Homo sapiens: one gene and its partner. The protein of the gene in region 1 interacts with the protein of each later gene in a biochemical or structural test. Each region holds a gene or a part of one and is shown on either strand. Other genes may lie near its edges.

What was found. The genes of interacting proteins can lie anywhere in the genome.
Region 2: the proteins of SMYD3 (region 1) and MAP3K2 are reported together in a solved structure, tested with the Homo sapiens proteins (2 studies listed by BioGRID and IntAct, with this or other methods).

The regions. Positions count from the first base shown.
Region 1 is NC_000001.11:246,504,265-246,512,008, reverse strand, and holds the start of SMYD3 (histone-lysine N-methyltransferase SMYD3), read left to right. Parts: upstream 1-4,729; 5' UTR 4,730-4,791; coding exon 4,792-4,955; intron 4,956-7,744. UniProt on the Homo sapiens protein: Histone methyltransferase. Specifically methylates 'Lys-4' of histone H3, inducing di- and tri-methylation, but not monomethylation. Also methylates 'Lys-5' of histone H4.
Region 2 is NC_000002.12:127,321,964-127,328,988, reverse strand, and holds part of MAP3K2 (mitogen-activated protein kinase kinase kinase 2), read left to right. Parts: intron 1-2,171; coding exon 2,172-2,302; intron 2,303-3,181; coding exon 3,182-3,261; intron 3,262-4,747; coding exon 4,748-4,815; intron 4,816-4,994; coding exon 4,995-5,087; intron 5,088-6,736; coding exon 6,737-6,943; intron 6,944-7,025. UniProt on the Homo sapiens protein: Component of a protein kinase signal transduction cascade. Regulates the JNK and ERK5 pathways by phosphorylating and activating MAP2K5 and MAP2K7. Plays a role in caveolae kiss-and-run dynamics.

The DNA.
Region 1 (7,744 bases):
GGGAACAGGTGTTGATGCCGATGGCATGCACTGCCTTTAAGGTTTAATGGAGTAAGTCCACGTGTGCCCAATGGCACTGGGGAGCACTGGGGTCAGACTCGGACTGGCCTGAGGGCAGCTTCCTCACACTGTCCCCATGATCCTCTGCTCTGGCCCAGGGGGAGGTCTGGCTGGGTGGGCTGGGCAGGGCACAGTGACACCAAGCCCACCCCCGACATGTTCCAGATGAAAGTCTGGAGTGTGGTGAGCACTTCCCTGCCCAGGCCACCCCCAGCCACAGCCTCCTATGCACATCTGGACCCCTGGGGTGGCCACAAAAGGATCTGGCACCTCCCAGTGGGAGACGGTTGAGGTGGCAATGAGGTATGGGCTCTGACCCTCCCAGGGAACTCTCCTGGCCTGATGCCCACCCTATCCCTAGAGGGCCTCATGAAGACATCCAGGTCTGGCCCATGGGCAGTTTTGGGGGCTGGTTCTCCCATACCTAGGCCCTGGATGAAGACGCAGCTCTCGGGCACCCTTGGGCCTCTACGAGGAAGCTAACAAGGAAGAATGGGGACCTGCCACCCCCAGATGGGCTTCCATACCAGGCCCCCTCCTGAGTCACCCTCTGGGGCAGTCAATAGTGGGGGAGCGCCCGGGACCCCCAAGCCTACTACCTGGGCCTTCCTCTTGTGCCTTTTCTTCCTCCTTTTCCTCCTGGACTCTAAGAAAGACAATAGGCCCCCGGTCCTCAGGGCAGGTGCTCAGTGCATGTGCACTGCACATGCTGTGCACGCAGGAGGGGGATGTGGGCAAGACCTCTCCAACAAGCCCCCTCCCACTTTCCACGGTGTCCCGCCCCCCCCCAACAGGGCCCTTGACGGCACTGGAGGAGCCAGACCCATTTGTGGGACCCCCCCCACCCCTCCCTGCAAGCACTGACAGCCTCAGAGAGCAGCAGAGGCCCCTCACTCCTGAACATCCCTCCAAGGGTGCCAGGACAACGAGCCTTGAGCCAGGGAGACAAGGGAGTCGGTGTCCCTGACCCCCAGAGCTTTCAGGGCAAGGGCACAGGTGGGACCCCTGGCCCAGAGCCAGAGCCAAGAGTTCAGCCAGGTGTGGGAATGGTCAGTCCTGGCATGGACCGGGCAGCCCAGGAGGGCAGAGGGGGCCCCGTATCTGGGCCCTCTTACTCATGGTAGAGACAGGTCCCCAAGTGAGGTAGCAAGGGGGCTGGGTGACAGCCAAGGCCCCTCCCACCTGAGTTCTGACTGGGGATCATATACCAGGCCCAACAGCCCTGGGATGAGGGCATGGGGCAGGAAGCCCCCAGCCAGCCTGAATCCTGGGGGGCAGTCCCAGGAGCCACCTGCTGTGCCCCGACAGCTTCCCTACCCCAGGTGACACACACCCCTCCCTCTGGGATCAGCAGCCTGCAGGTGTGTCCTCAGTGTCAGACCCCAGGGGCCACCGAGAGACCCTGAGGACTCCGGAGACCCAGGCAGGTGGGGCCCGGCCCAGAAAGGACTCTTTGGGCCCACTGGAGGTGCTGCCTGATCACGTCTGTTTTTCTTTCAGCCAAACCCAGGCAAGGGTCCTCAGCAGCCAGGGCTGTGCTGGCTTCACGTGGCAGGAAGGCCCTCTGCAAGGGGGATGGGCAGGTGCCCCCTGGCCCACCAGCCTGGTTCCAGCGGCCCATTTGGTCTGCTTCCCCACCATGGGTTCCTTGTCCTCTCACACCTGTCCTGGTGGGGCTTCCATGTGGCCAAGGCCCAGGGGCGTGAGGGGGCTTCTGGGGAGCCCAGGGCAGCAGGCCATTCTCTGGGGGACCCAGGACTTATGGTGTGCCCAGCCTGGCCTTGGCTCAAGGAGGACCTCGGGGTTCCTGGAGGTACCTGCAGCGGAACTCCATGTCCCGACTCCCAGTGGACTTGGATGTGGGGGGCCCTTGGTTCCATAATAATTTCAAACAGAGCTGCTGAGCTCATGTCCCTTCTGAATGTGTCCTGGACAGCCCTGGGACCATGGGGCAGGCTTAGCCCCGGAAGCCCATGGGGACCCCCATATCAGGCCCTGCCTAGGCCCATCAGGACTAAGAGGGAAGTTGGGAGATGCCCCCACAGCAGCATGGGCACCTGCATCTGGCCCCCTTGGTGGCCAATGACGGGCATGCCTAGAAGGAGCCAGGGTGGCACCCCACCAGCAATCCCAGACACCTTGGAAAATGCTGTTCAATGAGGAAGCCGGTCCCGTCAAGGCCATGAGAGAGAAAGGTGAGCATGGCATCCCTGCAGCCCAGCCAGCCAGTAGCATGCCCTGGGTCCTTGGTCCCAACCTGTGGAACAGTGTCCCCCTCCCAGGGCACAATTCGCAGGCCAAGAGGGGCCTGGCCTAGACCCCAGCCCTGGGAAGAGCGGGGAACCAGAGGTGTGGTGGGCTCCCAGCTGCAGTCAGCATGGCCATGCAGGGGGCCCTGGTACCACGGAGCTCTGCACTGTCACAATTCACCTCGCAGGGGCCGGCGAGATCCCGAAGCCTCGCAGCAACTGCTGCAGCCACAGCAGGCGCCACCACCACATGCCTTCCAGCCGCCAGTGCAGGGTTTCCCGACAGCAGGGTGTCCTGCAGCCCTCGCCTCAGCGGCTCAGACGCTGAAGGTATCTGTGGTTCATGTTTCTAGTGCTCCCACCAAAGAGAATCACTATGGAGGATGCTCTTGGTCCTGAGGTGAGCAAAACAGCACGCCCTGTGAATGGAGCCGGCTTCTTTCCTGGCCACCATGCTTGCTGGATGGGCCCACGGAGCAAGTGGCCTTGAGACGGGCATGGGAACGGAAGAGGCTCAGCATCCTGCACGTGCCCTTACCGAGGCTCACCAGGCTGACACCACTGCTGAGCGCCCCTCCGTGGATGAGACACTTGCACCCAGTCTCTGGGTTGGCACCATTTCCCAGGAGGACCAGCTGGCCACCTGCTGGCAGGCTAATCACACTGTGGAGGGGGCTGAGATTGGCTTTCACTGCACCAAGCCACAATGTGGACGTGGATTTGCCGGCCCTGCAGTGCACACAGCACTGCTTCTGACCAGGACACCCCATTCACAGCTGGGGATGTGCAGCATTGCGCTCCCACCTCAGGGCCTTGGCTCTGCCACCTCGACTTGGAATGTTCTCAGCTCCCTCCAGGCTTCTAGAAGCATCTGGGACACAGCTCATGGCTGGATAAGCACCCGAGGCCCCACAACCCAAACAAGCTTCCCATCCTCATTTTATTTTTTGTCAAACTTATGAAAATTTATTAAGATATGACTTACATCCCTGGTAAGTGCACAGCTTAAAAGATATTCACAGATGGAACACACCAGCCCCCAGATCACAAAGCCAACCATGCCCAGCCCCTCCCAACACCCCCAGCCCTGAAACCAGTGTTCTGACTTCTGACAGCACCACGAGCCTGCCTTTTGTACTTTACACTCATGGAAGCATAACCACCTTCATGTTTTAAAATAAATGTTTACTTTTGAAATGACTTTAGATACACAGAAAAATTGAAAGGCACTATAGTGTACTCCTACACCTTCCATCCAGCTGCCCTTAATAATGACATTTTGCATTACCATGGCACGTTTGTCCAAACTAAGAAATTTAGGCCGGGTGGGCTGGGCGCGGTGGCTCACGCCTGTAATCCCAGCACTTTGAGAGGCCGAGGCGGGCGGATCACAAGGTTAGATCGAGACCATCCTGGCTAACACGGTGAAACCTCGTCTCTACTAAAAATACAAAAATTAGCCGGGCGTGGTGGCAGGCGCCTGTAGTCCCAGCTACTCAAGAGGCTGAGGCAGGAGAATCGCTTGAACCCGGGAGGCAGAGGTTGCAGTGAGCCAATATCGTACCACTGCATTCCAGCCTGGGCGAGAATGAGACTCCGTCTCAAAAAACAAAACAAAACAAAACAAACCCCAAAAACAAAAAAGAAAATTAAGCTGGGTGTGGTGGCTCACACCTGTAATTCCAGCAATTCGAGAGGTCGAGGCAGGAGGTTCAGGTTCACTTGAGGCCAGGAGTTTGCGACTAGCCTGGGCGACATAGGTAGACTGTCTCTGGAGGAAAGTAAAAAGCATTAGCCAGGCATGGTGGCGTGAGCCTATAGTCCCATCTAGTCAGGAGGCCCAGGCGGGAGGATTGCACATGCCTGTAGTCCCAGCTACTATGGAGGCTGAGGCAGGAGAATCGCTTGAACCCGGAGGTCAGAGGTTGCAGTGAGCCGAGATCTCGCCACTGCACTCCAGCCTGGGCGACAGAGCAAGACTCCGTCCTAAAACAAAAAAAAGTTACAGTGCAAAGTACTAGTTGTGATGTCATGATGCCTGCAACTTTGAAATAGTTTAACGACAATACGTGTATACATAGCTACAGGTGGGGAGAGAGTGACGAGCAGAAATGGCAAAGTGCTAGGTTGTCTGATTTAGGCGGAGGTATATAGGTGTTCACTGCACTGTTTTCAACTGTTCCGTATGCGTTAAAATGATCGTAATACAATGTTAGAGGGAGAAAAAAAACCCCGCCTGTCTTCTGCGCAGTCGCCATGGGCACGAGCCGCACGCGGAGCCTTACGACCACCTTCAGGTCCCACACACTCCACTCCAGCCGTCCCTCCAGACTCCATCTGCGCATGCTCTTGCCCCACCGCGCCCGCCCCGCCCCTCGGGCGTACGTGTGCGCGCAGGGCGCAGGCGCGCGGGTCCCGGCAGCCCGTGAGACGCCCGCTGCTGGACGCGGGTAGCCGTCTGAGGTGCCGGAGCTGCGGGAGGATGGAGCCGCTGAAGGTGGAAAAGTTCGCAACCGCCAAGAGGGGAAACGGGCTGCGCGCCGTGACCCCGCTGCGCCCCGGAGAGCTACTCTTCCGCTCGGATCCCTTGGCGTACACGGTGTGCAAGGGGAGTCGTGGCGTCGTCTGCGACCGCTGCCTTCTCGGGTGCGTAAGGAGCGCCCTCGCCTACCTGAGTCGCGAGCTGTGTGGGGTGCTGGGGAGGGGGGGGCGTCGGGCGGCCGGCAGCCGCGGGACTCCTGCTGGATGGGGCTGCACAGGCAGCTTGGCGGTGCTGCCCCTGACGCGCGTGTGCCCGGGGGCGGGTCGCTGCTGACAGGCCCCGCCCGGACACCCCCCTAGGTTGCCGCAGCGGGGCTGGGAGGGGGCCCAGGCTCAGCCACTGCCCCCCAACCTGGGCTGCGGTGGAAATGGGAAAGCCATTGGGCAGACTTGAGGGGGAAGCGTTGTGCCGGGGATAATTTTGCTGGGAGACGAAAAGTCTGTGTGCTGGACAGTCTTCCTTGGTGCGGCTGTGGAAATCACACGTGGCGGGCGTGGGGCTGGGTGGGAGCTGGGATGAGTATAAATCAGGCTCCCCTGCAGAGGCCCCGCCGGTAAAGCATCAGGCTTGCAGCAGGTGGAAGAATCTTGATGTCTACGGTGCACCTCTGTGGTCTGGGTTGTGTGTGGCCTGGGGATACGAAGAGGAACGGGACCTCCTCAAAGAGCTGATCAAGTGAGAGAGAGAATTACAGTGTACCAGAAGGGCTGAAATAGAGGGGCAATTAATGTGCTGTGGGAGCATCAGACACGGGTCCCCCGTGTGCTGTGCCATTTAATGGCTGTGCAGGCATGTCTAACTCTTAACCACCATTCTAGATGCAGGGATTCACGTGAAGGTGTTTTGGAAGCCTGGACGCGCTGTGCCGGTGTAAAGTGCTATGTGAAAGCAATTTATGGAAATGTGTAACATACATGAATAATAGGAACTGCATTCAGTCAACAAATATTATTGAGCTTCTGTGTGCGAGGAAGAAGAGTTCTATTTTGAGATGAGTGCGATGATTTTGTGCATGGCCGCTTTTCAGACCTGCCAGTCTGAGATTTAGGTGGGTGGAGGTGGGACGGTAAGTGCAAAACTCGTATCTGTAATTTGACCATTGTTCTTACTTTGTTCTCATTTGATTCATAATTCAGGAATATGACTTTGCATTTTAGAGCTACCAAATAATAATTTTGTCTGTTGCTTTCTGAAGTAATGATAACAGCGAAAACATCTGTTCGGGAGAGAGCAGCATCTTGAAGTTTTTGTAAACTGTGTGGTTGAAAACAATTCGTTCCTTTCAAGATAGTTCTTGGAACAGAAAAGTTTTGGAATGAATAAATGGTGACAAATTGGCAATTGAATCATTAGAGCTGAAGTTGAGTCTTGTGACACACGGAATTGTGCATTTCCAAAATAAGCTACACAAACCCTTTGTGGGTGGGATGCTTGTTGATTTACCATACTATTTCATTAGTCTCATTCATTTTTCCTGTTTGCAGTAACTGGGGATTTAAGCAAAAAAGGAATTTAATGAAAGAGTTTTGGGGGAGTTCTCAGTGTTGCTTTAAAGTCTGCCAAGACTTGACTGGGCATCGGCTGAACCAAGTTAGGATTGCACTGCAAAAGTAGCTGGGGCTGGGATCTGGGGTGTATATCACTTCTGTCGCCTGATAATATTGGATTCTGCAGTAGGTACCACGAACACCATAGACACTGGACCCTGGTGCTGCTGCTGCTGCTGCTCCTTGGGAAACTCACTGTTGCTGGAGAGTGATTCTCTCAACCATTCTTCTTTGTGATACTGGCTTTTATTCAAAGTCCTCAGTGAGTGTCTTGGATTGGCTAAACTTAGGTCACTGCCTGCACCCCTAGCGCGAGGGAGGTTGAGACGGTATTTAGCCTTTTTGGCTTTTAAGATAGAAGGCAGGCTCACTCTACTTCCCACCGATAGTTATCCAGTGGGGAAATCAGCAAACATAAACATAGAAAAAGGGATATAAGTAAATGCTAAGCATCTAAACAAAACAAGCTAAACAGATTCTTCATAATGACTGACAAATACTTACTAGTATTTTACACAGACACAAAATATTTGCACTTACTTTGGATTGCCAGGATACACAGTTCACTTGTGTTGTGGTAGTAGTTGCTCTGTTTGAACACTCCCATTTTAGTGGTTATAGTGTTCCAAAGAGCCTGGTTGGGAATCACTGCAACCTGAAAATAGTGTTAGGGAAATGTTAGCGCATTGTTTGATGCAGTTTTCTGCCACTGTTGAATGCCTGTCCTTGAGGGATAAGTTTCTGTATTACTTGTCATCTTGTAAGTAAAATTTGTTTCTCTTTATTCACTGTCCATTGTGAAGTCTTTAAGAATAGTGCATCTTTCAGTTTTTGTAGCCCCAGTGTCTAACACATAGTAAGCCCTTAGTTTTAGTATGAATGTCTGGCAGAATTTTCCTCCTAACTGCCCCTGTCCTTCTGCTGCCTTCCATCTGAATTAAGTATGGAATGAAAATGTTAGTTTGTAGCAATTAACAGTTACATGGGAAAGGAAAAATCAAAATAGAATTAAAAAAACAGATATTGATGATAATTACAGTCATGCACTGCATAACGACATTTTGGTCAGCGAAAGACCAGATACATGACAGTGGCCCTGTATGATTATATCATTTTTTAACTGTACTTTTTCTGTGTTTAGGTACATTTAGATACACAAATACTTACCATTGTTTTACAGTTACCTACAGTATTCAGTACAGTAACACGCGGTGCAGGTTTATAGCCTCAGAGCAGTAGGCAGTACAGACAATACCTGCTAGCCTAGGTGTGTAGCAGGCTGTATGTACAGTCTGGGTTTGTGTGAGGATACACCATGATGTTCCTACAACAATGAAATCACCTCA
Region 2 (7,025 bases), on another chromosome or scaffold:
AACATTGTTTCAAAAAACCGCTGGTATAAATGTTCTTTGAGAGAGGGCAGTGAGTATGGCCATTAAAGATGGCATGAAAACATGTATGAGGGGCGGATTTAAAAGAGAAAAGTTAAAGAGGAGGAAAAACAAATGTGGTTGGGAATCTAAAAAAGATTGGTAACAGAAGAGGATTGTTGATAATCAAAGAAAAAATTGAATTGGCATGTGGACCATCAAAAAAATAGACATTATTCATGTTCTCTTTTGGTCCCCAGAAGAAGCTATTTTATGACCATTCTCTTCGAAGTGTCTGTCTTAAATAAGTCCTACTTTGGGTTTCAGGAATGCAGAAATGCGAGCAGCAGAGGTGATACACAAGCAAAATACAAATGGCTTGTCTTTTGCATTCAGATATATTTCGATATAGTTTTAAAATTTGGTGAAAGAACATTTGAAACACCCAAATTCAAATTCCAGCTCTCTGATGAACCTGAGACCAGTAAATGTGTCTTCATCTTTAAATCATGGGATTGTTGTAGCATTAAATTGAGAGAACACTTGTACATTTTACTTTTCAAACTAGAAAGCTTATTGTACATTTATACATTTTGTACATTGTACAAAGCTCAGATGTTCATTGTACATTTCTTTCTTTATCCCCATTTCTTATCACATTACGGTACTTGTCATTTTTTAAAAAATTGCTAATTCACTTTATTTTATTTATTTTTTGAGACAGAGTCTCACTCCGTCACCCAGGCTGGAGTACAGTGGCGCGGTCTCAGCTAACTGTAACCGCTGCCTCCTGGGTTCAAGTGATTCTCCTGCCTCAGCCTCCTGAATAACTGAGATTACAGGCGCCCGCCACCATGCCTGGCTAATTTTTATATTTTTAGTAGAGATGGGGTTTCAGCCTGTTAGCCAGATTGGTCTCGAACTCCTGACCTCATGTGATCCACCCACCTTGGCCTCCCAGAGTGCTGGGATTACAGGCGTGAGCCACAGTGCCCAGCTCTAATTCACTTTAGTTGCATTAGACAAAACAAGCTAAATGTACTAGTTAAATTGACATTTTAAATATATTTTGAATTAAAATTACACTGAATACCTCAGTCTTATTCTAATAAATATTCTTGTTTGACGTCAGTGCCAGCATAAGAAGAAATTGGAAATCATAAAGTATAGAATTAGTGGTCTTTTATTGGCACTGCTTTAAACTTGGAATGGCTTTGCTAGATATGACCATTATCTATTTTTCTTATATGTTGGCAGTTATTCTTTTTAATTGTTTTTATAAAAGGGAGATGGAGGAAAAACTCCTTTAGGTTAGGAGTGTATGCTGATAAACAGGTCTCAACCAAGAGTGCGTTGGCATACGCATTACTGTGAAAAAGGGTTGTCAAATAAGGAGACAAAATTTTCATAGCTTTTTTTTTTTTTTGGTCCTATCTCCTTTTAGTAATTGACTATATTGATCTTTTGTAAGCACGGGTATATGGAAGGAATAAAAATATTAGGGACCAGTATTATTGTGGCTACAGTTGTTATGAAGCCTAAATCAATCCTGACTCAAATTGAGCTCCTAATCATTTTACAGACAAGTGTAGACAGTACTCTCTTTTATGCACATGTCTTGGTAATAATTTTGCTTTCTTTTTCCTCCCTGTCTCACTAACAAATGCTTGCATATACTCACAATGACTCCTTTACATAAGGCTAAAATGTTTTTTGCTTTAAATTGGACCAGAACTTAAATGCTCACATAGTTTAATTTCAAAAAACTATGAGGAAAGGTGAGACACTGTACTAATAAATATAGCATCATTTCCACAGAACCAAGTAAAATAGAGTGGGTTATTGTCTCATAAGAAATGTGATTACTTAAATAAACTGTCTTAATGCCAGAAATCTATATTGTATTATCATCCTATCAGCAGTCAGAATACCATCCTACCTAGTGAGTATAAATGAATATTATGGTGAGGTTAATAATTATGATAGGGTGGGAATTTACAAAGGTTATAAAGCCATTTGAAGATTTACAAATGAATGTTCTGATAAGTTTTAATAAAAATTGAATTTTCTTTTGCTGAAATTATTAATGATATAATTCAGAAATATAGCCTATTTAAAACAAAACTTGATTCCCTTGCCTATAATTATAAATTACATTATTTTTCTTCCTTGAGGTCCTACTAGTAGAGATAGAAGTTCTCCTCCCCCAGGTTACATTCCAGATGAATTACACCAGGTTGCCCGGAATGGGTCATTCACTAGTATCAACAGTGAAGGAGAGTTCATTCCAGAGAGCATGGACCAAGTAAGCAAAAGTTTGATTTTTTAAATTTAATTTAAAGAGATGTTGTCAGGGTCAGTGTGATTTGGCACGTAACTGGGTGTGTGTGTGTATTATCTCTTCTCTAATTACATATCTTCTTAACTGAACAAAATAGAAAAAATATAGGAAAATGCCCATTAATTTACATGTGCCTGTATAAAGAAAGCTGGAATACAGCTGGTTTTATATTGCTCAATAAGTGAATGAATGAGAGTGAGTGAATGATAATGCATTTGCTTTGTAATTTAACAGCCAGATTTTTTTTTTAAACATTTGAAAGATAGAATGAAACTACAAATATTTACCTTTGTGAAACTGAGGTTTGTGAACTTTCTGAAACATTTAAAAAATACTTCAATTTTATAGTATTAAAATGTTTTCATGGAGTTGCTGTTATTCCCTTAACATTGCATTGCATCGCATTATATGTTCACACTATTATAGTAGTTTACATTTTCTAATAATGTAATAGTCATAGTGTCATTAGTCTCAGTTTGGGTGGGGCCATTGTTCAGTTTTCAGTAAGCAAAATAGTGTGAAATATTGTAGCTTTTAATTATTTAGTCAATAGTCTATAGAGAAAGAATATTTTTCTCTTAGGAAATTTTGAAGTCGTGGCTTGCTTACAAGGGACATTTGAAAATGAGTAACTCTGGAGAGTGACCACTATTGAGTATGGAATTGTTCTAAAATTGTGAGTGAGGGTTGCACAACTCTCAGTATTCTAAAAGCCTTGACTTGTATACTTTAAATGGGTGAATTTTATGTTACATGAAGTATGTCTAATTAAGGCAGGTTTTTTTAATAAGCAACTTTTGGTTATATCAAATTGAATCATGGTGGAACTCCTTTTTTTCCTAGATGCTGGATCCATTATCTTTAAGCAGCCCTGAAAATTCTGGCTCAGGAAGTTGTCCATCACTTGATAGTCCTTTGGATGGGTAATGTTTATCGTAGTTTTTGGAGGGTTTATTTGTTTATTTGAGACAGAGTTTTGCTGTCACCCAGGCTGGAGCGCAGTGGCGTGAATGCGGCTTACTGCAGCCTTGACCTCCTTGGCTCCATCAGTCCTCCCACCTCTGACCCCCGAGGAACTAGGACCAAAGGCATTTGCTATTAATACCACATCTGGCTATTTTGTTTGTATTATTTGTAGAGATGGGGGTCTCACTTTGTTACCCAGGCTGATCTTGAACTCCTGGGCTCAAGCGAACCTCCTGCCTTGGTCTCCTAAAGCGCTGGGATTACACACATGAGCCACCATGCTCAGCTTACTGTAGTTTTCTTTTTTAATAGATATGAGTAAATATTCATACAGATAGAATGTTGAATTATCAGTAACTTTTTTGTGCTACATTCAGAGGAATAGAATTGGTACTTGTGTATGATGACGGCAGATGAATTTTTGCACAGTGTGGATAAATCCCTTTACCTCATGGGACTCAGTATCTTTGTTAGTTAAAAGGAAATCTGATTATAATAGTTTGAGTATTCCTGCTTGTCAAAATTGTGTGTTTGAAGGCAAATCAAATTTAGAATTTATGTACATTTACTTTTAAAACTGTGTTTATGAAAAGTGCTATCAACTTTTACATTAATATGTTTGGTTTTGGAAATTTCCTGAGTTATTTCACCTGTTCAGGATTATGTTCATTCTGGCACCAGATTAGAAATAATTTAAATTCTTGGAAATTGTAGCCCACTGTGTCACATTGGTACATGTAGGCAAAAATTTAAGTACTTTTGTGAAAAAGCTGTTCAGGAATATGAGCAGGATAAAGTTGCAAAATGTGAATTTTTTGTTACACGTGCTCCCCCTCCTGGTCTCAATAGGACAGTATTCTTGGTAATCCTCTCTGGAATTGCTTTATGAAAGCAAATTCTGAAAAAAATAACTAATATTGCGTGGGAATGCACATTTAAGTTTCTTTTATCCATGTATATGAAATTTCTGTCTGTGTCAATGTCTATCTTAAGGTAGACATTTAAGAAATTCAGGGAAGTAGTAACGAGAAAGCTATATATTTGAGTACTTACCATTTGCAAAACACTATCCTGGATACCTTACTTATGTACACTTGAATAGTTGGAAATTATCTTTTTTGTTGATGCAGAAGGGTGATTTGCCAAGGTTACATAGTTAAGTGGCAGAGCTTGGATTGAAACACAGTGCTTAGAAACACCTAATGATTCCAAAATACGTCATTCTTCCACTGTACTGTAAGGTTAATTTTAAGTCATGCTCTTTGCCTACATGTACCAAGTAAGTGTAGTTTTTCTTTTTTAGGTATGCTAACCTTTCAAAGTGAGCTCCTTTACACAAACACATACAGAGAGGCACAGATAGATATAGATATTGCTCAAAGATTTTCTTTTTAATGTCTTACGTTCTTTCTGTAAACTTAATGTGATGTTTTTTCTTTATAGAGAGAGCTATCCAAAATCACGAATGCCTAGGGCTCAGAGCTACCCAGATAATCATCAGGAATTTTCAGGTTAGACTTTATAAATTCTAAATGTTTAAATGTTTATGTCATTGGATAATGTTTTGGCTGGGAGGGAGAGGGGGGATTTTTGAAAAGTCAAATAAAGATTTATAAATGTGCTTTTCATCATTAGAAATATTTAACTTTTTTTTTTAAATAAAAGATAACCATCTTATATGTCTTAACAGACTATGATAACCCTATCTTTGAGAAATTTGGAAAAGGAGGAACATATCCAAGAAGGTATCATGTTTCATATCATCATCAAGAGTATAATGATGGTAAGTTTCTAGCAATTAGACCACAAGAATAGTTAAAAAATCTCAACAACAAAAATAAATACAAAAATTTTTTAAAACCTCATATTTGTGTTAATACCATTAGAAAAATATGAGGAATTGTGTTATAACAAAAGTATAATGGGCATTTTGGCTTTATGACAACTTATAAGACTTGGTTATCCCTTAAAAGAAAATGAATAATTTTTTGTTTTAAGAGACAAGGTTTTGTTGCCCAGGCGGGAGTGCTGTGGCATGATCTTAGCTCACTGTAACTTTAAATTCCTGGGCTCAAGTGATCTTCCTGCCTTGGCTTCCTGAGTTCAGGTGTGTGCCATTACAGGCATTTGCCATCACACCCAGCTAATTAAAAAATTTTTTTTGTAGAGACAGTGTCCCACCATGTTGCCCAGGCTGGTCTTGAAGTCTTGGGCTCAAGCGGTCCTCCTGCCTCAGCCTCCCAAAGTGCTGGGATTACAGGTGTGAGCCACTGCACTTGGCCAAGAAGGAGTAATTTTCTTTCTTTCTTTTTTTTTTTTCCCCTGAGACAGAGTCTCACTCTGTTCTGTCACCCAGGCTGGAGTGCAGTGGCATGATCTCTGCTCACTGCACCCTCCACCTCCTGGGTTCAAGCGATTCTCACCTGGCTAATTTTTGTATTTTTAGTAGAGATGGGGTTTTGCCATGTTGGCCAGGCTGGTCTCAAAACTCCTGATCTCCAGTGATCCACTTGCCTTGGCCTCCCAAAGTGCTAGGATTACAGGCGTGAGCCACCGTGCCCGGCCTAATTTTTGTATTTTTAGTAGAGATGGGGTTTTGCCATGTTGCCCAGGCTGGTCTCGAACTCCTGGGCTCAAGTGATCTGCCTGCCTTGGCCTCCCAAAGTGCTGGGATTACAGGCATGAGCCACTGCACCCATCCAAAAGGAGTAACTTTTAAATGATATTAGAAAATTACTCTTTGATGATGAGATTGATACTTACATCATCCCTTTAAGAAAAAAAATTACTGGCCAGGTGCGGTGGCTCATGCCTGTAATCCCAGCACTTTGGGAGGCCGAGGCGGGTGGATCACCTGAGGTCAGGAGTATGAGACCAGCCTGGCCAACGTGATGAAACCCCGTCTCTACTAAAAATACAAAAAATTAGCTGGGCATGGTGGTGGGCGCCTGTAATCCCAGCTACTTGGGAGGCTGAGACAGGAGAATCGCTTGAACCCTGGAGGCGGAGGTTGCAGTGAGCCGAGATTGTACCACTGCACTCCAGCCTGGGCAACAAGAGTGAAACTCCATCTCAAAAAGAAAAGAAAAAAATTACTACCTGTGAACTTCTGCATCTTTGTTTTAGATTTTAAAATCATTATTGGAAATGAGAGTAAATTTTTTTCCTCCTTTTTATCCAGAAGTGAGGAGGTTCCTTTTTAAGATGTGTGTGTGTATGTTTCTGTGTGCACACTCATACATGTTTTATCATAAGAGATTATTTGAATTTGTATTCAGATCCTGTTTATTTTTTCCCACCCAATCATTCCTATTTGAGTTTCTTAGCCTAGTCACAGGACAAATTTCTATTCTCTACATTACAAATTTTAAATACTTTAAAAGTATAACATATTAATAAAAGGTATAAGGTCATTCTCTTTTCATTTTTTAGGTCGTAAAACTTTTCCAAGAGCTAGAAGGACCCAGGGGACCAGCTTACGGTCTCCTGTGAGTTTCAGTCCTACTGATCATTCCTTAAGCACTAGTAGTGGAAGCAGTATCTTTACCCCAGAGTATGATGATAGTCGAATAAGAAGAAGGGGAAGTGACATAGACAATCCTACTTTGACCGTAATGGACATCAGCCCACCCAGCCGTTGTAAGTAATAGAACTTGGTATAGTGAAATGTAGAGCAGAATCTTTGCAGAATTTTATATTATTAAAAGGAATAAATACTAAG